Homo sapiens: one gene and its partners. The protein of the gene in region 6 purifies or fractionates together with the protein of the main gene of each other region. This does not show direct contact. Each region holds a gene or a part of one and is shown on either strand. Other genes may lie near its edges.

Region 1 (3,918 bases), on a different chromosome or scaffold from region 6:
ATAGTGAGTACCCAGGCCAGCAGTTCAGCAGCTGATTTAGTATCTAGATTATATGATTTTTAAATTTTTTAAATACTGTTTTCTTGTTGGGCGTGGTGGCTGACACCTGTAATCCCAGCACTTTGGGAGACTGAGGTGGGCAGATCATGAGGTCAGGAGATCAAGACCATCCTGGATAACATAGTGAAACCCCGGGTCTACTAAAAATACAAAAAAAAATTAGCTGGGCGTGGTGGCGGGCACCTGTAGTCCCAGCTACTCGGGAGGCTGAGGCAGGAGAATGGCGTGAACCCGGGAGGCGGAGCTTGCAGAGAGCCGAGATTGCACCACTGCACTCCAGCCTGGGTGACAGAGCAAGACTCCGTCTCAAAATAAAATAAAATACTGTTTTCTTTTTCTTTTTTGAGACTGAGTCTTGCTCTCTCGCTCAGGCTGGAGTACAGTGGCACAATCTCAGCTCATTGCAACCTCCACCTCCTGGGTTCAAGCAATTCTCCTGCCTCAGCCTCCAGAGTAGCTGGGATTACAGGCAGGCGCCACCACACTCGGCTAATTTTTGTATTTTTAGTAGAGATGGGGTTTCACCATGTTGGCCAGGCTGGCCTCAAACTCCTGACCTCATGATCCTCCCACCTTGGCCTCCCAAAGTGCTGGGATTACAGGCATGAGCCACCATGCCCAGCCTTTAATACTGTTTTCTAAGGTGACCCTTTCAGTCATTTCTCTTGTACAACTTCAGTAGTGATTATATATGAGGAGAAAGTTTAGAACTCAAATCCACCAGCTGTTTTCATTTATTTTTAGAACAGATAAGAAGAAGATGCCAAGAGAAAAAACGTAAAACTAAAGCTGTTCTTGTATAAATCTCTTTCATATAAATAATTGGCTTCACCATAATAGCTGTCCCAGCTGGTAAGCCTCAGGAGTGTTCTTCTCCATCAGATGCTAAATCTTGAGAACTTTCCCTGGGGAAAAGCAGCTGTTAACTAGGACCTTCCTATTACCTGTCTCACCCAGACCACCCTAAAAGCTCATACATTTTTCCTGACACAGGACCAAGCAGTATGTTGGCAAGGTGGAAGTTGTCAGGAGAGAATAGCAAAATGGCTTCCTTGGTACCCCTTTGACCCCTTCTCCATCATAACTGCTCTCTCACGCCCATTTGTTCATTTAACAGTTAATATTTGAGTTCTTGCAGTGTAAATACTAAAAAATAGTGTTTCTATAAAGGAATTAACTATCCGTTGAGGGGACAGAAATAAAAACAGCTAGCTTAAGTACAGCTTTAAAGCTACGTATGCTATTCGGGTGTAACAGAGGAAAGAAAGACTAACACACTGTCTGGGTAATCTGGGATGGTGCCATAGAAGGAGTGCTATTTTAGGCGTTAACTAGGAATCTCAGGAGGAAAGGGAAAGAGAATGAAGGAAAGGGCCTTTTCAGGCAAAGACAGCAGGATGTACAAAAGCACAGAGATGTAAAACAGCATAATTTTTTAAAGAAACTGCAAATAAAGCAGTATTGCTAGAACACAGAGTGTAGAAAGAGACAGTAGCCAGAGAGGTTGAAAACTGGGAATTAAGTGAATTATATACCAAGTTAAGATATATGGACTTGATTCTGTAGAGAATTCGGGAGCACTTAAAGGGTTTTAAGCAGCAAGTTGCCATTATTTGAGGGTTTTTTTGTTTTCTTTATTTTTTGTTTTTTTGTTTTTTCGGGGTTTTTTTGAGACAGAGTTTCGCTCTTGTTGCCCGGGCTGGAATGCAATGGTGCGATCTCCACTCACTGTAACCTCCGCCTCCCGGGATCAAGTGATTCTCCTGCCTCAGCCTCCTGAGTAGCTAGGATCACAGGCGTGCACCACCATGCCCGGCTAATTTTGTATTTTTAGTAGAGACGGGGTTTCTCCATTTTGGTCAGGCTGGTCTCAAACTGCCGACCTCAGGTGATCCGCCTACCTCGGCCTCCCAAAGTGTTGGGATTACAAGCGTGAGCCACCACACCCAGCCATTTAGTTTTCATTTAGAAAGATGTCTCTAGGGTTTAATGGGGGTAGAAAGGACAGTTATTGCAAAAATATATATGAGAGTTGATAAAGGACTGAATTAAGGTTTTGAGTTGAGCAATTTGAAATTGCTGATATTCAGCCATTTTTGAAACAAATTTCATATGGGTTATTCAACTAGAAGCAGCGAGGATGGAAAAGAAGAGACAGACCTGAGAAAAATATGGGTGGTAGAATTGACAGATTCAACAGTAGAATTAAAGGAGGAGGTAGTTTTAGAGCTAATTCCAAGTTTGGGGTTTACCACCAGATTGGGTTATCATGCCATTCAACAAAATAAAACACTATAGGAAGAGGTGCAGCTAACACTCCCTAAACTTGCCCACTCGCCCATGCTCTTTGGAGTCATTACCCTTAATCTTTTTGCTCTACTCCAAGAGAATCTCCACCATTGGTTTGCAGGGGTATACAATCATTTGGATTTCCCTGGGCCATATTGGAAAACGAATTGTCTTGGGCCACACATAAAATGCACTAACACTAACAATAGCTGATGAGCTTAAAAAAACAAAAATCACAAAAAAAACTCAAACACCTGTGGCATTTGAAGAAGAAGAGAAATCTAAAAGTTTAGAAAACCAGCTGAGTGCGGTGGCTCACGCCTGTAATCCCAGTACTTTGGGAGGCCAAGGTAGGTGGATCATTGTGGTCAGGAGTTCCAGACCAGCCTGGCCAACATGGTGAAACCCCATCTCTACTAAAAATGCAAAAATTAGCCAGGCATGGTGGCGTGCGCCTGTAATCCCAGCTACTGGGGAGGCTGAGGCAGGAGAATTGCTTGAACCTGGGAAGCGGAGGTTGCAGTGAGCCAAGATCGTGCCACTGCACTCCATCCTGGGTGACAGAGCAAGACTCCCAAGACTCTGTCTCCAAAAAAAAAAAAAAAACAAAGAAAACTTTTGGAAAACATATTTGGGAGAATAATCAAGGAAGACTTCTCCAGTCTTGCTAGAGACCTAGACGTCCAAATACAAGAAGCTCAAAGAATACCTGGGAAATTCATTGCAAAAAGATCATTGCCTAGGCATATTGTCATCAGGTTATCTAAAGTTAAGACAAAGGAAAGAATCTTCAGAGCTGTGAAGCAAAAGCACGAGGTAACCTATAAAGGAAAACCTATCAACTTAACAGTGGATTTCTCAGCAGAACCCCTACAAGCTAGAAAGGATTGGGGCCCTATCTTCAGTCTCCTTAAAGAAAGCAATTATCAGCCAAGAATTCTGTATCCAGTGAAACTAAGCTTCATAAATGAAGGAAAGATACAGTGTGTTTCAGACAAACAAATACTGAGAGAATTCACCACTACCAAGCCAGCACTACAAGAGCTGCCAAAAGGAGCCCTAAATCTTAAATCCTGGAAACACATCAAAACAGAACCTCTTTAAAGAATAAATCTCACAGGACCTACAAAACAAAAATACAATTAAAAAAAAAGTGGGGGGTATACAGGCAACAGATAGCATGATGAATGGAATAGTACCTCACATCTCAATACTAAGATTGAATGTAAATGGCCTAAATGTTCCACTAAAAGATACAGAATTGCAGAATAGATAAGAATTCATTAACTATCTGCTGCCTTTAAGAGACTTACCCAACACATAAGGACTCACTTAAGGTAGAGGGGTGGAAAAAGACATTCTATGTAAATGGATACCAAAAGTCAGCAGGAATAGCTATCTTGTATCAGGCAAAACAAACTTTAAAGAAACAGCAGTTCAAAAAGACAGAGGGACATTATATAATGATAAAAGGCCTTGTCCAACAGGAAAATATCACAATCCTGAATATATATGCACCAAACACTGGAGCTTCCAAATTTATAAAACAATTGCCAATAGACCTAAGAA
Region 2 (3,330 bases), on a different chromosome or scaffold from region 6:
TGTGGTTCCAGTGCCGAGCTGGGCTCATGGGTCCCACAGATGGGACCATGGCCTGAGACCAGGCCCCAGGGAGAAGTCTCCTGGGGCCAGCACCCCCACCCCAAAGGTCTCCCCATTCTGATGGGCATTTCAGAAGGTTCAGGAGAAGCCGGGGACCAGGCCCAGGGGCGAGAGACGGTAGTCCAGGCTTTTCTTTGGAGAGGCTTTGCACAGCTCCCAGCCTCTGCTGGCCTCGGATGGCCCTCCCGCGGCACCTGTGCCGATGGACAGGGTCCTGGGTGCCCGTAGGTTATGGAGCCGGCCCCCTCCTTGGGTCCAGAGCCCCTGGGGATGGCGCCTCATTTTGACCCTGCCCCCGTGGCCTGCGGGTGCTGGGTGTCCTGGCCCCTGCCAGGGTCCTCCTCTGGGTCCCTGTCTCCGCCTCACCTCTGCCTCCCTTCTCCTGTAGAAAGTCCTACCTCCATCTCCGTGGGCCCCAGCACCAGCCGACGGCCCGCAGCCTCCCAAAGACTCTGCCACGCCACTCTCCCCGCAGCCGCCCAGCGAAGAACCAGCCACATCCCCCTGGCCTGCTGAGCAGTCCCCAAAATCACGCACGTCCGAGGAGATGGGGGCTGGAGCCCCCATGCGGGAGCCTGGGAGCCCAGCTGAATCCGAGGGCCGGGACCAGGCCCAGCCGTCCCCGGTAACCCAGCCTGGCGCCTCGGCCTAGGGGAGGGGTGAGACGCTCGCTGCCGTGCCCGCCACACCAAGATGTTGGGGCTGCCTGGCGCCCACTGGAGACAGACAGACAGACGCCTGTCCCCCGGGACCGAGGCCTGTGCCGTCCCCACCCGCCCCAACATGGTGCTCATCCTTGCCGAGACCCCTGCGGTCTGTGCCCGCGCCCAGCCCAGCTGCCCCGGCTGCACGCCTGCTGCTCCCAGCTCGCCCGGCTGCCACAAGCTCTCTGCGGGTCCATCCTCCCCACCGGGGTCCGTCCTCGCAGGCCCTGCCCGGCCTCTCTGCAGACCCTCAAGCGTCGTCTGCATGAGTGAGCAGGCGTGGGTGGACTCTGGCCGCGGCCACACTTGGTGCTCACCAGCTGCTTCGGCCTTCAGGTGACCTCCCTCCCCACGGCATCCTGCTCTCCGGGTGGAAGAGCAGCTTTCTGTCTCCCAGAAGGCATCGCTTTTCCCTCTTGAGCAGATCGGAGCCCCTGGGAGGTTTGGAAGCTGCCTCCAAGCCTAGGACACGGACCAGTGGCCGGGGCGGCCTCTGGCCCCTGACGCTGGCTGAGACAGGCCCGTGGGGCGGGGTTTTGGGGCGTGAACAAGGCTGGCAGTAAGTGGACAAGCTGCTCCCCTGGCTAAGGCCCTGCCCTGCCCTCAGCCAGAGGTGCCTGGCCATGCCTGCACACTCCTCCCCATTTTAATAAATGGTCGCAACTTCTAGAAGTCCTGCTGGTGCCACCTGGTGGGGTGGACGTCTCTCAGACTGCCCTTCTGACAAGCAGGGGTGGGCGCCAGGCAGGCTGGGTCAGGCCCTCAGGGGTCCCTGGAGCCCTGGGAGGGAGGGACTGGGTCGTGGGAGGTCCTGGTAGCTCCCGGCACCCAACCTCGCTTCCCGTGTGGGCCCCGTGTTGCTTTTCTGCTGAGAGGGGCTTGGGCCTCGGTTCTCCCTGTGGCAGCGGCATTGGTGCCTGGGTTCTTAACCCTCTGGACCCAGCAGCTAGGAGCTTCTGGAACCCACGAGGACATCTGCCACTGGCATGGTCTACTCACTGATGGGGTCCTCCTGACTCCAGGGCAGAGACGTCCGTGCGGGAACTGACCGAGGCGTGGCCCCAGGCCCCGGCATCCTCCCCTCGCTGCACGTGGTCACTTCCGAAGCAGCGCTCCCTGTGGCCGCAGAGACAGAGCCCGCACCCTGGCTGTCTGTGGTGCCTGGGCCCCAGCTCCCGCCCGCCACCCGCCCTGTTGAGTGCGGCCTCCAGACTCGAGTCCAGAATCTGTTTCTGTCAAGTCAGTCGTCCCCAGCTGCACACGGGGACTGCTGAGCGCTGCGCTCTCACGGGTCTGTTCCGGACAGAGGGTGGCAGGGGTGAGCCCTGATCCCTTACAAAAAATACCAGCTTCCCAGGGAGTAATGGCGCCTTCACTGAAGCCATTTTGTACATGGGGACGGGGTGGGGACGTCTCTTTTTTGGTGTTGGACGTTTGACCAGTGGGGAGGGGTTCAGAGGCGGCGGTCCTGTCCTTGGCTCCGTCTGTCCGTGTGGCCTTGCTGCCATTCCGTCTGATCATTAAACACAGCTTTTGATACATATGGCCCGGCCTCTGCCTCCGCAGTGCACGGCTTGGGGCATCTGCTCTGTGCAGGTCCCGGTGAGCAGAACTGAGAGCTGGCAGGCCGCCTGGCTGTCCTGCAGAGGACGGATTGGAATTGCCACCGCAGGGCCGGCCAGTGCTGTGAGGTGCCCAGCGTCACTCCCATGGGCTCTGTGGGCCATGTGGTCCCTGTCACGCTTCTCAGCTCTGCCACTGTTGCTGGAAAGCATCACAGACCATGTGTAAAATGGGCCAAAATACCTTTTACAAAATTAAAATAGAGATGGGGTCTTGCAGTGTTGCTGAGGCTGATCTCGAACTGCTGAGCTCAGACAATCCTCCTGTCTCGGCCTCCCAAAGCGCTGCAATTACAGGCACGAGCCACCACGCCCATCCCTCAAGTAATTTTCTCGCCAGACCCTGAAATTGGAATTGTATAGCATCCTCACGTCTCAAAAGAGTTTATTATTATTTTTTTCTCTTTAAAAATGCAAAGACCTGTCTTAGCCGCTTTGGGACAAGGTTTGGTTTCCAGCTGCTGCTGGCTGGCGCTGGGCCTGTGGGCACGTGGGTGATGGATGCGGGTTTGTGTGCGGGCCGAGAGGCCAGTGAGTCCTGAGCATCTGCCAGGCATCAGGGGCTGCTGTGTGTGTTGTTCTAGTCTCACAAAGTTCTCCGCTACGTTAGAGAAAGTGAGACCCAGGCTGGGCATGGTGGCTCACGCCTGTAACCCCAGTGCTTTGGGAGGCTGAGGTGGGAGGATTGCTTGAGCCTGGGAGTTTAAGACCAGCCTGGGCAACGTAGCAAGACCCCATTTCTACACAAATTACCTGGGTGTGGTGGCACACACCTGTAGTCCCAGCTGTTCAGGAGGCTGGGGTGGGAGAATTACTTGAGCCCAGGAGGTCAAGGCTGCAGTGAACTGTGATCGCACCACTGCACTCCAGCCTGGGTAACAGAGCGAGACCTTGTCTCCAAAAAAAAAAAAGGCCACCAGCAAGCCTCTGAGGCCACATGGCTG
Region 3 (3,918 bases), on a different chromosome or scaffold from region 6:
CTAGAGCTGCTGCTTTCAATCACTGCTTTCCTGGTGGTCTGTGGCCTGGTTCTCTTTCTTCTCACACTCTTCCCACCTTCAGAGTGCAGCCATTGCTTTGGAGAGATGGGAGAGAACATGGCACTAAGGCAGAATATGGCTATATTTACTTTGAAGAGCATGTCTTTGTCATAGAAATAGTCACTGTCATGGTTTGGTGGGTCCCAAGGCATGGGTCATGGCTCCAGATCCCCTTTCCAGCCTTTTGGATCTTGGTAAGTCTGAACCCACTGCTGCGTTGGCAAGGCTCTGGAAACTATAGTGACAGAGAATGATTCACAAGTGTCAACACTCAGATGTACAGGGCTGCCAGCTGACCCACTCTACCTATTTCCATCTGGCACTGAACTGGTTGATCATGAACTTCTTTTCATAATTGCTTTTTAGTTATGCAGGTTAAGACATGCCGAAACAGATGTACCGGACCCACAAACAAGTCCTTCCTTGAATGCCTGAGGCTTCCTAACAGTGAAAGAGCCCTGTTCTTAGAGTAGGCAAACTGATTCTGAGGCATTGTAGGTGGTAGGGATCTGGTAGTAGGTAGCATTAGGTGGGCTCCCGGCACTCACCATGGAGCCTTGAAATTTTCTGCTACTTTGGGGGAGTTGCTGGTTCAGAGAAGGCCCTTCCACCCTGGTAGCCATGTGGCACTGGAAGGCTGTGAAAACTCTGCTGGGCCTTCTTAGTCATCTGTTGTGAGCTCCTGATGGGAGTGTGGTGTATCCCTCAGGTGTGCTAGACTGGAACAAAGGCTGAGAAGTGTTGCTCTGGGGGTTCCAACTTGTGGGCATGGGGTACTGATGAGATCAGTAGTGTTTGGAGACTTCTGTATGCTCCATCTTCAGAAGACATTCTGGAGTCCATATAAGTTATCTTGTCTCTTGTTTGAAGCAGGAAAAAGGAATGCGATTGCTGGTAATATAGTTCACTAAAGTCAGCTACCTGGCCTCTAACAGTTATTTGCAAAGTATATTATAACATTGATTCCTCAAACATCTAGATTCCTATCTCGTGCCAAGTGATGTACTAGGTGCTCTAAGTACAAAAATAAAGGAATATAGTCCTCCTCTCAATGCGTAAGCCTAGTGGAAGAAGCAGAAATGAAAGGGAAATAAGAATTCAATAGAGTATGAGGCATTACAGTGAAAGAAACCAAATGTCTTAGAAGTACAAATGGCAGAGCTACTAATTCTGTCTCGAGCAGGCAGGGAAGAGTCTATAGTGGAAATGACTTTTGAGCTAGATTTTGAATTGAGCTAGTCTTTTGAGCCAGACTTTTGAGCTAGAATTGTAGGGTTGTCATCAGACCAGAGAGTAGGAAGGGTACCTTGTGAGGAAGAGAGAGAGAGATCAGATTGTTACTGTGTCTATGTAGAAAAGGAAGACATAAGAAACTCCATTTTGATCTGTACTAAGAAAAATTGTTTCTGCTTTGAGATGCTGTTAACCTGTAACTTTAGTCCCAACCCTGTGCTCACAGAAACCTGTGCTGTAATGAATCAAGGTTTAATGGATTTAGGGCTGTGCAGGATGTACCTTGTTAACAATATGTTTGCAGGCAGTATGCTTGGTAAAAGTCATCGCCATTCTCCATTCTCGATTAACCAGGGACACAGTGCACTGCGGAAGGCCGCAGGGACATCTGCCCAAGAAAGCCTGGGTATTGTCCAAGGTTTCCCCCCACTGAGACAGCCTGAGATATGGCCTTGTGGGAAAGGAAAGACCTTACCACCCCCCAGCCCGACACCCGTAAAGTGTCTGTGCTGAGGAGGAGTAGTGAAAGAGCGGGGCCTCTTTGCAGTTGAGATAAGAGGAAGGCTTCTGTCTCCTGCTCATCCCTGGGAATGGAATGTCTCTGTGTAAAGCTGACCATTCCCATTCGTTCTATTCTGAGATAGGAGAAAACCACCCTGTGGCTGGAGGCGAAGTATGCTGGCAGCAATACTGCTCTGTTACTCTTTGCTACACTGAGTTGTTTGGGTAAAGAGAAACATAAATCTAGCCTGCGTGCACATCCAGGCACAGTACCTTTCCTTGAACTTATTCATGATACAGATTCCTTTGCTCACGTTTCCCTGCTGACCTTCTCCCCACCTGTTGCCCTGCTACACTCCCCTCGCTAAGATAGTAAAAATAATGATCAGTAAATACTGAGGTAACTCAGAGGCTAGCGCTGGTGCGGGTCCTCCGTATGCTGAGTGCCGGTCCCCTGGGCCCACTGTTCTTTCTCTATACTTTGTTTCTGTGTCTTATTTCTTTTCTCAGTCTCGTCCCACCTGACGAGAAATACCCACAGGTGTGGAGGGGCTGGCCCCTTTCAGTATCTCAGAAGGGACAAAGTACACAAAGGCATGGGGTCATGATAGTGCCTGGTATGTTCAGGTAGTGAAGAGGTCCATGTGGTATGAGCACTGCAGATGATATGTGTCGTATGAATTAAAAATACATAGTTACTGCAAATAGTTTTTACAGGTTATTGTTTTTAAGAAAGCAGTATCTAATGCACGAGTGTACTGTCAGTACTGTCAATGAACTACTTACCACTCAAGTGACTGCTTATCTGTTGTTCTGTCCTCTCAAGCCACCTACAGTCAGAAAATGGTCTTGATTTTACTGATGTTGCTGTTAATAATAGCTGTGACTTCTTGAGTACCCACCACATGCCAGGCCCAATGTAGGGGCTTTGCATCCATTATCCATGATCTTTACAACAACCCTGCAAAATTAGGTATCAGCCTTATTTTAAAGTCTTGACAGCTTGTGACTTCCCTGAAGTTGCATAGGCAGGAAGAATCTAAGTCAACATTCGAATCCACGTCAGTCTCATGAAGCCTGTGCTCTTTCCTGCGTGCCATGCCATAGTTCTAGTTAAGTGACAACTCCTTTCCTCCATGACATTGTAGATCCAGTATGCTAAGGAACCCTCTATTTACAAATTGTAAGTGATTAAACAAAACAAACCTGTTAGTGGCGCTTATACATCCAAATGAGTGTTGTTATTCAAAGAGGTTACTTGGGGAAAGAGAATGTATACACCTATTCCATTGTTCATACTCCTTGTTACTCATCTGGAATTCCCTTTAAAGTCAGTTTACATATCACATAAGAAGATCCATCTCATTGCTTTATGATCATCTATCATTTTCAACCAAAATAGTTCCACCTAGTTTGATCACACATCTTATTCACTAACCTTGGCTCTGACTGACTGTTTGCCATTTCCAAAATTTGAATCCACCCTCAGTGAAAATTTAGCACCATTTGGGATAGTCAGAAGATCAGACTGCAGGTTCTCAAGGTGCTTCCAAGAAGAAAGCTTCAAAGATGATTTGAGTAATGAAGTACCATTGGAATTACTGCATTGCCTCCCAAGGGGACTGGTTAAAGGAGAGAAATCTCATTTGAATGTATAATTTCCAGTTTTAAAAGTATCATTCCTATTACTTGATAATTACACACACATTGTTCTTAGCTGTGTTCTTTGAGGGCCAGGATTTGGAGGTGCTGAATTACGTGCTGAATGAGTGGATGTTGGGTACAAATAGACATCTACCACTGGGAAGTCTTTGTTGTACAGGAGAGACCGTGGATTGAAGGAGTTTTAGATAGTTTCCTAGGACTCCAGAAGTTAAGCTTTTTAATATGGAGCTTGAGTTTTCTAATCATTTTGCCTGATATGTCATGCCTGTACAAGATGACTGGAATTTAAGACAAAAGCCTCGAACTCTGGAGATAGATGCTTTATAAGTGGAGACTCATACTTTGTCAGCTCCAACCTAATAGTGACAACAATGATTGCTAAATGAGATTATTACCTACAATGTGGCAGAACTTTTGTCTTTCATAATACTGCTAAAGCTAGAATGGGTAAAATGTATC
Region 4 (4,614 bases), on a different chromosome or scaffold from region 6:
ATTTATCTTTCAGCAGGCTCAGCAAACTGCAACCTCCTTCAATCTCAGGCCTTGAACAATTTAATAAGAATAGCTGAGGATATTTAATGTTGGTTACTATAATCTCTCCCCCAAATTTTGTTTTAATTTTTGTGTTTCCCTTAGCTGGAGAGGGATGACGTTTCCTTGAAGGAAATACATGGAACAGTAAAATTATTGAGGCTTGACTCAATTATAATGTTGGATGAATCTATTAGAATGTTAGGCTTTTTAGATTTTACTTTTATTGCTCTTCCCAAGTAGACTTGGAAGCACAAATAAATATTTCTTATTCTCTTGCCTTAAATTAACTTTTGAGAATACCTTGAAAAATTGAGGGGAAAAATCTAATGGCACCGATAAAATGGAGGATAATAATATCTCCGTCATTCATAGACTTGCTATGAAGACTATATGAAATAATATATATTTTATGTATATATATGTAATAGTCCTGGATCCACGTCTGGCATCCAGGAGGTTCCCAGAAATATCAGTTCTCACCTCTTTTCTGATGAATTCATACTGCACAAAAGCCTGTTACATTATCTGAAAAAGTCATCACTGTCATCCATGACACCTCTAGATGGAGATAAACCCCTCAAGAAAGCATAGAAAGGGTTAATAACCCTCTCTAGATAATGCAGATAGAAAAACACCGTCATTTTTGCTAAAGCACCCCAAATCCTACCTTGACATTGCAATCAACAAGCCTTATCCACCTTCCGAATTTCAGGACTTGCGTTGGGCTTGTTGCTGTAGATGATAGACGCTATTAGGAAAGAAATCATGTTGATGAAACAAATATTTTCTTCCCTCCCCAGGAGGATCAGGAGAATTTATTTAAGGAATGAAAAATATAATTAAATATTCTATAACCTACCTCCCCAAAATATGGACAAAATTATTTATTTCCCCCCACCTGTGGGGTGGAATGGGGGGGCATTGTAGATGATTCCCAAACAGCCAGGTGCTAAGGAGATTATACTCTTCAGAACAGACAATATTCAGTATGATTTCAGTACTGCAAAAGAGATGCAATGATCACGGTAGATATCATTTTCTGTGGGGCATGTCAGTTGGCCTTTGTCATTGTCTCTACACATATGTAGCCAACTACACAGTAACACCTTGTTTCTATTGCACTCATATTTTGATTGTCAGAATGGCTGATATGTACGTAAACTTCTTCATGAAAAATTTAAACTCTGGAGCCCAGATATCTTTTTTCATTACCGTGTATGTGAGGTCGCAATTGTCTGCAAACTGGGGAGCTCAGAGGTTACTCAGTGCGCCGCATTTCCTCACCCCCCGCCCCCCAAATCATCTTAGCTCAACCATATATGAGCGTCCCTCGGTTAGCCTGCCTAAAAGGTATGAGGTAAGGGGCATATGCACTTAGTGGCTCAGCAATCAGAGGCTTCCTTGGATGGGACTTATACTGGTAATATTAATGAAGAAGCTGCGCGGTACTGGCAGTGATTCCAGACCAAATCTTTTAACTGCCGAATGTCACTCGCTGAATTATGAGTTGGGGAGCTCTGTTGCTTAAAATACAGGGTTCTCAAACACAATGCAAGTGTTTGTCACCTCAAGTCGCATACTACCCAACAGGAAGCAAAAGGCAAAGGGCATGGCGCAGAAAAGAAACAGACACACAGACACGTTTTGCAATGACGAACTTTATGTGACATCAGGAACGGCAACCTGTTCTCATGTTTAGCAATTCCGAGGAACGCTGTAAAGACTGCTTGTCAGGTAAAACTGAGTACAGGAATAAGAGGCAGCGCTGGAGACTTTTTCGCAATCCTTTTCAAAATATAGAACAGTAACCAAATGACTTAGATAAGCTAATTAATTATTTAAAAAAAGGTTCACTGGATGCCTTTATCCTCTCCTCTTAAGCTTACGTGATCACCAGCAGCGCTGTTCAAATTCAGCTAACAGCTGTTAGACCAAACACAGATCCGCAGTGTGTTATCTCCCCAGAGTTACGGATGTTCGCTGAGACCCGCCAGAAAAATTAGGGTCGCTTTTCAATGAGAACATAATAAAGGATCCTTGGTTCCCCCTCTGCACACACTGTCCCAAACCTTGCGCCCCCTCCCACTTGCCTGCTGTCGGATTTCTTAAAATTGTAGTCGGTCCTGCAACTCAGTTGCATCTTCCGCAGCCCGACCCTCTACTCAGCGACATTGCGTTCAGTTTCCCTCCTTTCTCTCCTCCCACTCCTCACTTCTTGAGACCCCACCCCCGCCTTCCGTTTCTGTCTCGGCTTCCCCCGCGCCAGGTTCTCTAGACCCCCGCCTCCGCCCAGCGTCTTCATCTCGAGCCCCCGCTCCCAATCCCCTTAGAGACTTCTATGCTCCTTCCGTGGAACCTAAGCTCCTCTCTTCTTCCAGAGACTCAGTCTCCTCGCGATTTGCGCGTTCAGAGTCCCTCCCCCCAACCTCCGCTAGGGCCAGTGCGGTCCTGCAGGCTGCAGCCATCCGGGACCTGTCCCCGCTCCCCACCCCATCCCCCGCCTAAATCGTTGGGGTCTCGGCTAGCAATGCCGCCCGGGGCTCCAACTTACCACTAGCGTCCGGGAGGAAGACCAGGCAGCGGTCGCCGCGGCGGCAGCTAGACGAGAAACGGACTCGGCTGCAATCGCCCAGCGGAGCCCGCGGCAGTCGGTGCGCTGAGCTGCGCTGCGCTGCGCGCCGCAACCTCGCGCCTCGGCGGAGGGAGAGGAATGGAGGGAGCTCGGCGCGATAGGAAGCGCCGGCGAGTCGACCTCCTTTGGGTGACCGTGCGCCCCCCGGCTAGGTTTGGCTCTTTTCGCTCCGCTATCTTACTCTAGCTTAGTAACTGACCACCTCCAGCATCTCTGCACTAATCGCGTCTTCTTTCTTCTTCGTTGGCCCCTAACTAACTACACTACTCTAAACGGACGAAGGCCATCACACGAGCGCCACGACGATCGCGACGACTCCGACGACAACGATGTACAGACAGAAGAAGAGTTCATATGCAATCGGCAGGTAAGGGGCAAGGCAGGCCAATGGAGCAGCCAAGGCTAGCAATCTAGCCGCTCCAAAGGCAGTATCGGGAAGATCGGTGCATCTGAGGAAGGAAGCGTCCTCGGCAAGCACCAGAGCGCCTACCTCGCGCGGGTGAATCTGCACCACGCTCTTGGGCCAAAAGCGGGATGAGGGGAGGAGCCAAGAGCAGCCAATCAGCACTCAGCATTACGTGGCCCCCGGGCCTGTTTGGACCGGTCTCTTAGTGCATCTGGAGCCTGCTGGCAGGGGGCGCGAGACCCCATGGTGGAGATGGGGGTGGGGGTGATGATTAATCTGATTCACAAGGCCTAGAGAGTAGGGGGAACCAGGATCAGCCATGGCACCGGATAGAGAGAGAGGGAAGGCTTTCTCAAGAATGTACCCTCAAAGATTCATAGCATACCCCTCCCCAAACACACACACACACACACACACACACCCCTGTACATTTCATTTCAACAAACAGCATTCTCAAGTCTTGCAAATTTCATCAAGCTTTGAAACTCCCTTCAAGGGTCTCTGTTCCGACTCTTGCCCATTCCTCCAACAGTAGCAACTGAGGCACTCACAGGGTCAAACATTTGGTGAGTGCGCAAAGGCCACAATCCTGTTATAAGGCCCACTTCCCCATCCTTGTCTCCCCATCCTTTCCCTAACCCCAAAGGAGAAAGAAAAGCTCTTGGCCTTCGAGCCCCGGGAAGGCACAGTTTAGTTCCTTTCTTGACCCCACAGGCCTCATTAGAAAGACACCTTGAGGGCAGCTCTTACGGGTTTCCAAGGGGGTGAACATATCTCTCTGGCACAGGGCCTTGGGCCCACAGCCAGTCGGTTGCCCAGTCGTTGTGGGGGAGGGAGGGGTGCTGTCAATGCAAGGTCAAGGCAGCAAGAGGTGAACCACAAAGGCTCTCTTTTGGCAACTGCTGGGATGCCGAGCTGCAACCGGTCAGGCAGAGCTCTAACCGGTCAGGCAGAGCTCTTTTTCACAGGCTCCCAGGCGCAACCGGGCAGGTGCCTGCGGTGTCCTGGCGGCAGCGCAGAGAAGGGTGAACGGGGCCCCCTTGGCTCAGAGGCACCAAAACCAAGCTGAGTAATGGAGATGATCCCACGGAGAATGGGGACAGAAGCAGATCTCTCCTAAGAGGGAACGAAGGGGCGAGCGGGGGTGGTGGTCTCGGGTCGCGGCCGAGGTTTCTCGGCCCTGTACCGAGGACCGGGGTGGGAAAAGTGGAGATTGGCTCCCCGCCTGTCGGAGGTAGCTGGACCGAAGCAAAAGATCGAGCCTCCGGTTTGGCTACTTAGGACCGGACGGCAGCGCAGCGAGTGTATAGAAGAGGCTACAGAGAGGCCGTACAGAGAGAGGCTTGGAGGACCTAACCCGGCAGAACGCAAAAGGGGTGGGAGCTGCCGGCTATTCTGAAGGCCGAAGTTTGCCTCAGTAGCCCCAAAAGTTAGAGATGGAGAAGGAAGTGGAAGCAATGATAAGGGTCAGGCCCCTTCCTTATTCTGGATGCCCTAGGAACAGTCATTTCTCTCTGTGCCTCTGTTTCCATAT
Region 5 (3,661 bases), on a different chromosome or scaffold from region 6:
TATAATTCTTCTGTGTTTTTAAATATTCAGGCAGATTAATATGTGATATGATGCTTACCCTTGGTTAAAGATCTACATTTTTTGTTTTCTCTTGCAGCAATGACTTGACTTGAAGAGCTCTAAGAGACTGAAAACTTATATGAAGTTGCCTTGGGAATATTTTTATATATTTTATACAGTTTCTATCATGGAGTCAGCAGGCACGTGGATAAAACCTAAAAGGGAATATTATTGCTGTGCCATATACAGAATTCAGTTTGCTTTGAAACAAGTTTTGGTTGAAAGAGTCTGTTGAAAATTTTATTATACTTCCAGGGAAGGAAAGAGCTGTTTTTATCTTCTTAACCACTCCCAGCCTCTACTCTTCCCAGCCCCTAATCCCAGGCCTTGGTGTACACACTGTAGTTTTTCCATTATGATGAGTATGTGCAGTGATACTATTCATGTACAGTCTGAGCTTATGCTCAGGGGTGTGTGTGTATATGTGTATGCATGTGTGCACGTGAGTGTGTGTTTCTTTTTCCAGTTCCTGCATCCTATTTTGACACTGGTTGTAAGAAGATCTTGATACATACAGGTTAGCTGTTACAAAAGATAAAAGATGAATCTTCAGTGGTAAAAGCTCAGTGGAAATAATCTAGTTAGCCCTGAGGAGTTGATTCCCCAAGGGACCATGGAGTCAGATGGGACCAGATGCTAGACTTTGGATTCCTTGACCACAAATTCAGCATTAACTCCTGCCACCACCATGTCACTCCTACAGCACTTACACATTTTGAGAAGGTTTTTTTTTTTTTTTTTTTGAGGCAGAGTCTCGCTGTGTCCCCTAGGCTGGAGTGCAGTGGCACAATCTCCACTCACCTCAATCTCCACCTCCCCAGGTTCAAGCGATTCTCCTGCCTCAGCCTCCCAAGTAGCTGGGATTACAGGCATGCACCACCACGCTCGACTAATTTTTGTATTTTTAGTAGAGACGGGGTATCACTATATTGGTCAGGCTGGTCTTGAACTCCTGACCTCAGGCGATCTACCCGCCTCGGCCTCCCAAAGTGCTGGGAATATAGGCGTGGGCCACTGCACCCGGTTTTTTGTTTTTTTTTGTTTTTTTTTTTTTTTTAACCTTTAGCTGAGCGATTCTTGGTTAATCCATTGAATAAAGGAGAAAATGGTTGAAAGTCACACACACACAAATTTGTTTGGACAACCCAAGGCCAAAACAAAAGAACCCTGCTTCTCTCTTTTTTTTTTTTTTTTTTTTTTTTTGAGGCGGAGTCTCGCTCTGTCGCCCAGGCTGGAGTGCAGTGGCACGATCTCAGCTCACTGCAAGCTCCACCTTCTGAGTTCACGCCATTCTCCTGCCTCAGCCTCCTGAGTAGCTGGGACTACAGGTGCCCACCACCACGCTTGGCTTATTTTTTTTGTATTTTTAGGAGAGACGGGGTTTCACCGCATTAGCGAAGATGGTCTCGATCTCCTGACCTCGTGATCCACCCGCCTCGGCCTCCCAAAGTTCTGGGATTACAGGCTTGAGCCACTGCGCCCGGCCTAGAACCCTGCTTCTCATATAAGATGGGCCTGCACCTACCTCTGGCATGTTTTTCTTTGTGTATTTCCTGTTTTTCATCCTGTAACTAATGCTCATTATTTAAAACACTCCAGTTACTTTTCCCTTTAGGCCTGGCAAACTTTTCTTTTTCTTTTTTTTTTTTATAACTGTACATTTTACAAAACACCTGAAAGGACCCAGAGGCATAAATAGTATTACATGATTTATGGTAGCTCTGGGGTGAGCTGTGGGGGAGGCCAGTTACAAGGTCTCCAAGACCCGCCTCCATGTCAGTGTTGGGGGGTGCCTTGAGCACTTCTTTTATTTCATATAGGAAAATGCACATCTTTCATTTGTCTCCCAAAAGATGATTTCCATAAAAATATACTTCAAAGTATTTACTGTACATAGACTTCAATGATTTTATTTCCAGCATCAAACTAAACATTTCTAACCTTTTAAATAAATGGGGAATTTAGTTTCATGAGAATTTTTACTGACAACTAATAAACACTGTATGTGTACATATTCATATACACTGTGGACTGGAGAAAGTCAGTATGGAAATAAATTTCACTGAGATCCAGAAAGTAGCAATATAGGACTTTTAGGGGTATGTATTAGTGTAAATAATATATGTGCAGTCTAGGCTAATCATTTTAATTAAAAACAAATAAGCATACTTTTTTGCTTTAAAAATATGCCCTCAAAATGGTGGGGGATAAAATGTAAGATATTCTTTAGCTTTAATTATTTTTCCATCTTATTCAAGTCAGAGCACTTTTTTTTAAATAGCAATACAACAGGCAAGAGAATACTCAAAAATATTTAAAACTGTATTGATACCAAGAGTATGTTTTAAATATTTTCTAATAAATACTTGAGCGGTTTTTGTCTGGCAGGCTTCCAAATTTGCCAAAATTAAGCGTTCAGTATTTTCAACACATACGCTTTTTACTGGTTTATACTGAACTATCTGATGAGAATTCCTGTGTTCCCAAAGCAACTGATGTTTACAGGTCTTGTGTTACTCCTCCTCCTTTCTAAGGATGAGGGAATCCACAACAGACTTTCTCTAGAAAACACTAATGATGGACAACTTTTTGGTGTCATCAATGAGTTGGCTACTACCTTGATGTAAAAATTTGTAAGGAAAATTTTCACCATTTCGAGTGTCAAGTGTATTTTTAACTGTCTGGTTTGTACTTTTATGACTTTTGTACTACCAAAGCGGAGTTAAAAATAAAAATGTTAAACGCAGTGTGTTGTCTTGTGGGTGATCCAATTATTGGCGCCTTGTACACTGGAAATACAGTCGTGGCAGTATAATTATTGAGCTTAATTTTTTACAGTGCTGAATTTCTTGTGTCTTGAAATATCAAGTGATCACTTGGCTGACTTTCCTCATGAGATTTCCCCTCCTGCAGTACCCCTTCCCCTAACACAGGCATACTTTGGAGATACTGTGGGTTCAGCCCCGGCCTACTGCAGTAAAGCAAATATTGCAATCAAGCCAGCCACATGAGCTTTTTGGTTTCCCACTGCATATAAAAAAGTTATATTTATACTATACTATAGTCTATTAAGTATATGCAATAATATTCTGTCAAAAAACATACATACCTTAATTTAAAATACTTTTTATTGCTAAAAAAAAATACGATAATCTGAGCCTTCAGCAAGTCATAATCTTTTTGCTGCTGCAGGATCTTGCCTCAATGTTGAAGGCTACTGACCAGGGTGGTGGTTACTGAAGGTTGGGGTGGCTGTGGCAATTTCTTAAAATAACACAGTGATAAAGTTTGCTGCACTGATTGACCTCACCTTTCATGAAAGTTTTCTCTATAGCATGCAGTACTGTTTGATAGCATTTTATCACAGTAGAACATCTTTCAAAATTGGAGTCAATCATCTCAAAATCTGATGCTGCTTTATCAACTAAGTTTATGTATTATTATATTCTAAATCCTTTGCTGTCATTTCAACAGTGTTCACAGCATCTTCACCAGGAGTAGATGCCATCTCAGGAAACCACTTTCTTTCATCATCTGTTAAGCAATTCCTCATCTATTCAAGTTTTATCATGAGATGGCAGCAATTCAGTTCAATCTTCAT
Region 6 (3,918 bases):
TTGGCCTCCCAAAGTGCTGGGTTACAGGCATGAGCCACCATACCTGGCCATAAATGGTATATTTAAACTTCAGTTTCAAATTTTCCATTGCTAGTATAAAAAAAAATAGAATTGATTCTGAGTGCTGACCTGTATCTTGTGACCAGAGTTTTTTAGTACAATCCTTAGGATGCTCTACATAGACAGGTTTATTTCTTCCTTTTCAATCTGTGTGCTTGTTGTCTTATTTCTTGCCTTTTCGCACTGGCAGCAACTTCCAAAAGGGTACTAACTAGGAGTGATAAGAGTGAATATCTATGTCTTACTCCAATCTTAGGGGGAAAGCATTCATTTCACTATTAAGTATGATGTCAGCTTTAGGTTTTTTTTGTTGACATCATTTATCAGGTTGAGAACATTTCTTTCTATCCCTAATTTGCTGATAGTTTTGTTAATATCATGAACAGATACTGAATTCTGTCAAAAGCCTTTTCTGCATCAATTGATATGGACATGTGGCTGCTTCTTTAGGCTGTCAGTATGGTGGATTACGTTCACTGATTTTCAATACTGGTGGATTACATTCACTGATTTTCAAATATTGAACCAGCCTTCCATTCCTTGGTCATGGTGTATTATTCATTTTATGTGTTGCTGGATTTGATTTGCTAATATTTTGTTGAGGATTTTTATCCATGTTCATGACAGGCATTGGTGTGTAGTTTTCTGTTCTCATAATGTCTTTGACTGGTTTTGGTGTGAGGATAATGTTGGCCTCATAGAATTAATTGGAAGTATTCCTTCCTCTTCTATTTTTTGGAAGAAATTGAGTATATTTGGTGTTATTTCTTCTTTGAAGGTTTGGTAGAATTTACCAAGAGACCATCTGGGCCTGGAGGTTTCTTATTTGAAAGGTTTTTAACCACAAAGTCAACTTCTTTAGTAATTAGGATTGTTCAAGTTATTTATTTCATCTTGGATGAGTTTTTGTAATTTGTGATTTTCAAGGAATTCCATCTATTTCATTAAATTTTTTAATGTATATCAATAGAGTTGTTTATAGTATTTGTTTATTGTCCTTTTGATAGTTGCACAGTTTGTAGTGATATGACCTTTTTCATTCTGATTTTGGTATTTTATGTCTTCTCTTTTTCTTGTCAGACTTGTAGAGGTTTATCAATTGTATTGATTTTTTTCCAAAGAAGCAACTTTTGGTTTCATTGATTTTTCTCTATTGTTTTTCCATATACAGTTTAATTGATTTCTACTCTTATTTCTTTCCTTCTGCTTGCTTTTGGTTTATTTTGTTCTCTATAGCTTCTTAGATTACTTACTGGATACCTTGCATTTTTGCCAATACAAGTATTTTAATGCTATAAATTTCCCTCTAAACACTGCTTTAGCTGCATCCTGCAAATGTTTAAATGTATTACTTTTATTTTCATTTAGTTCAAAATATTTTCTAATACTCCTTGAGATTTTCCCATAGGCTGTTTAGAAATGTGTTGTTTAGTTTCCATGTATTTAGAGGCTTTCCAGTTATTTTTTGCTATTGACTTCTAGCTTAATTTTATTATGATCCAAGAACATACTTTATATGATTTCACTTATTTTATATTTGTGCAACACCCGGTATGTGACCTGGGTGTTGTTGTCTCTGTTGTTTCAGTTTTCAGTGTCTTTGGTACACTAAGTAGGATCAAATCCATGCATGCACAGCTTTGGCAATGAGCTCAAGCATTCACGAACTACTTCATGGGGTTGCTTTCTCACACTTCACCCTGTCTACAGTCTCTGCCATACTTTGTGATTTGCTGGGGCTCCCTTTTTCGGTCCCCAGGCCAAATTTTCTCATGCACTTGCACAACTGCACCTATGTCCAGGGCCAAGTGGTAGAAGGACAAAGAATAAAAGCAATGGGAGTTTGCCCCACTGTCTTGAGATACAGTTCCATCAGTCAGAAAAATTTCCCTTCTGGGCCCGGCGCGGTGGCTCACGCCTGTAATCTCAGCACTTTGGGAGGCCAAGGCGGGCGGATCATGAGGTCAGGAGATCGAGACCATCCTGGCTAACATGGTGAAACCCTGTCTCTACTAAAAATACAAAAGATTAGCCAGGCGTTGTGGCGGGCGCCTGTAGTCCCAGCTACTTGGGAGGCTGAGGCAGGAGAATGGCATGAACCTGGGAGACGGAGCTTGCAGTGAGCCGAGATCACGCCACTGCACCCCAGCTTGGGCAACAGAGTGAGACTCCGTCTCAAAAAAAAAAAAAAAGAAAAATTTCCCTTCCTCTGTATTTGTAAGCAGGCGTTCCCAACCCCTGGTCCATGGCCTGTTAGGAACCAGGCCACACAGTGGGAGGTGAGTGGCAGGTGAGTGAGCATTACCATCTGAGCTCCACCTCCTGTCAGATTAGCAGAGGCATTAGATTCTCATAGGAGCGTGAATCCTATTGTGAACTGTGCATGTGAGGGATCTAGGTTGCAGGCTTCTTATGATAATCTAACTAATGCCTGATGATCTGAGGTGGAACAGCTTCATCCTGAAACCATCCCCCAAACACCTGTCCATGGAAAAATTGTCTGCCATGAAACTAGTCTCTGGTACCAAAAAGGTTGGGGACTGTTGTTTTTGAGCATTCTGCTTGTGTTATAGCCTTTGCCACAACTGTCATGAAATTGCTCAGAAGCTGGCTTACAACAGAAGGAAAAATATTGTATTTCTACACTATCTCCAAGTATTCGTGTGTCCCCTTTCTTGTTTCATGAGCCAGAACTATAGGCCTTCTTCTGGAGTATTCTGTTCACACTTTTGGGTTTTAAGCTGAGTTGCATTCAGACAAGGGGATATGGAAGGAAACTGCTAATTCAATGGTTCTTCACATTGCAGTCTTCCTTAATATGCTCACTATTAATTTTTCAGAGTCCTCAAATAGCCACTTCATGTATCCTGTCCAGGTTTTATAGTTGCATTCACTGGGAAAGACAGGATAGAGTTTGCTTATTCTGTCTTACCTAGAACAGAACCCCATTTTCTATCTTTTGATTGAAGCAAGTCTTTCAAAGGCTTTGTTTTCTGTGTGGAAGTCTAATTGTTATGTGAAACCTAAATATAGTATAAGTTTGAGTATATATATGTAGATTCCAGCAAGACCTAATAAAGAATAAGCACAACTAATTTAAAACCTATATTTCAAAGCCTCATTGATATTTATTTCCTATCTCAATTCCTTTCATCACTGATGTCTTCATTAACCTAGCTTGTTCTCTATTTTCTACTAAAATTTCTACTTAAGAAACTTATCCTTAAATTTAGGGTTAGGAGACAGCATATTCATATCAGAAAGAAATCTGCATTTTTGTCAGGGAATTCAGTAAAAGTTCTATACCCATTTGCATTTTGACACTACAGTTTCATTTTGATTCTATAGATAAACCTGCAAATGTATAAAACAACCTTAATACATTGGTGTGCTTTGTTGGTGCATTATTGTATAGCATCAAAAAATTTGGAAACAACCCTAGTGTCCGAGCAACGAAAGATTCATTGAATAAATAATGGCATATCCACATACTGGAGTAGTATTCAATGTTTAAAAAAGAATCAGGAAGATCTCTATGAACTAAAATAGAAAGATCTACAGAGGGTACATTATTAGGTTTAACAAATCAAAATGCAGAGAATATATATCGTATACCTCCTATTGTATAAGAAAGAAAAGAAATAATATGTATTTATATTTGGATAAAGAATCAGTGAAAAATAAGAAACTAATAAAAATGGTAACCTATAGGGGGCCAGGGGAGATGGGTGGATGGGTACAGTGGTAGGAGCAAGACTGCTTAGCATATATCTTTTATATCAGTTTGAGTTTTTAGCCATATTTAAACAATTTAGGTAAATTTTATATTATGTAGTTTTTACCACAATAACTTTTTTT

The links.
Region 1: the proteins of RABL3 (region 6) and RAP1GDS1 purify together in Homo sapiens (affinity purification with mass spectrometry; 2 studies listed by BioGRID and IntAct, with this or other methods). This does not show direct contact.
Region 2: the proteins of RABL3 (region 6) and SPPL2B purify together in Homo sapiens (co-immunoprecipitation; one large-scale study listed by IntAct). This does not show direct contact.
Region 3: the proteins of RABL3 (region 6) and TMEM185A purify together in Homo sapiens (co-immunoprecipitation; one large-scale study listed by IntAct). This does not show direct contact.
Region 4: the proteins of RABL3 (region 6) and HTR2C purify together in Homo sapiens (co-immunoprecipitation; one large-scale study listed by IntAct). This does not show direct contact.
Region 5: the proteins of RABL3 (region 6) and RELL1 purify together in Homo sapiens (affinity purification with mass spectrometry; one large-scale study listed by BioGRID and IntAct). This does not show direct contact.

Annotation. Positions count from the first base shown.
Region 1 is NC_000004.12:98,421,832-98,425,749, forward strand, and holds part of RAP1GDS1 (rap1 GTPase-GDP dissociation stimulator 1), read left to right. Parts: intron 1-3,918. UniProt on the Homo sapiens protein: Acts as a GEF (guanine nucleotide exchange factor) for the Rho family of small GTP-binding proteins (G proteins) that stimulates the dissociation of GDP to enable subsequent binding of GTP.
Region 2 is NC_000019.10:2,352,498-2,355,827, forward strand, and holds the end of SPPL2B (signal peptide peptidase-like 2B isoform 2 precursor), read left to right. Parts: intron 1-448; coding exon 449-712; 3' UTR 713-2,598; downstream 2,599-3,330. UniProt on the Homo sapiens protein: Intramembrane-cleaving aspartic protease (I-CLiP) that cleaves type II membrane signal peptides in the hydrophobic plane of the membrane. Functions in ITM2B and TNF processing.
Region 3 is NC_000023.11:149,624,960-149,628,877, reverse strand, and holds part of TMEM185A (transmembrane protein 185A), read left to right. Parts: intron 1-3,918.
Region 4 is NC_000023.11:114,582,639-114,587,252, reverse strand, and holds the start of HTR2C (5-hydroxytryptamine receptor 2C isoform a precursor), read right to left. Parts: upstream 3,168-4,614; 5' UTR 2,594-3,167; intron 1-2,593. UniProt on the Homo sapiens protein: G-protein coupled receptor for 5-hydroxytryptamine (serotonin).
Region 5 is NC_000004.12:37,609,779-37,613,439, reverse strand, and holds the end of RELL1 (RELT-like protein 1 precursor), read left to right. Parts: intron 1-97; 3' UTR 98-2,806; downstream 2,807-3,661. UniProt on the Homo sapiens protein: Induces activation of MAPK14/p38 cascade, when overexpressed. Induces apoptosis, when overexpressed.
Region 6 is NC_000003.12:120,700,895-120,704,812, reverse strand, and holds part of RABL3 (rab-like protein 3), read left to right. Parts: intron 1-3,918. UniProt on the Homo sapiens protein: Required for KRAS signaling regulation and modulation of cell proliferation. Regulator of KRAS prenylation, and probably prenylation of other small GTPases. Required for lymphocyte development and function. Not required for myeloid cell development.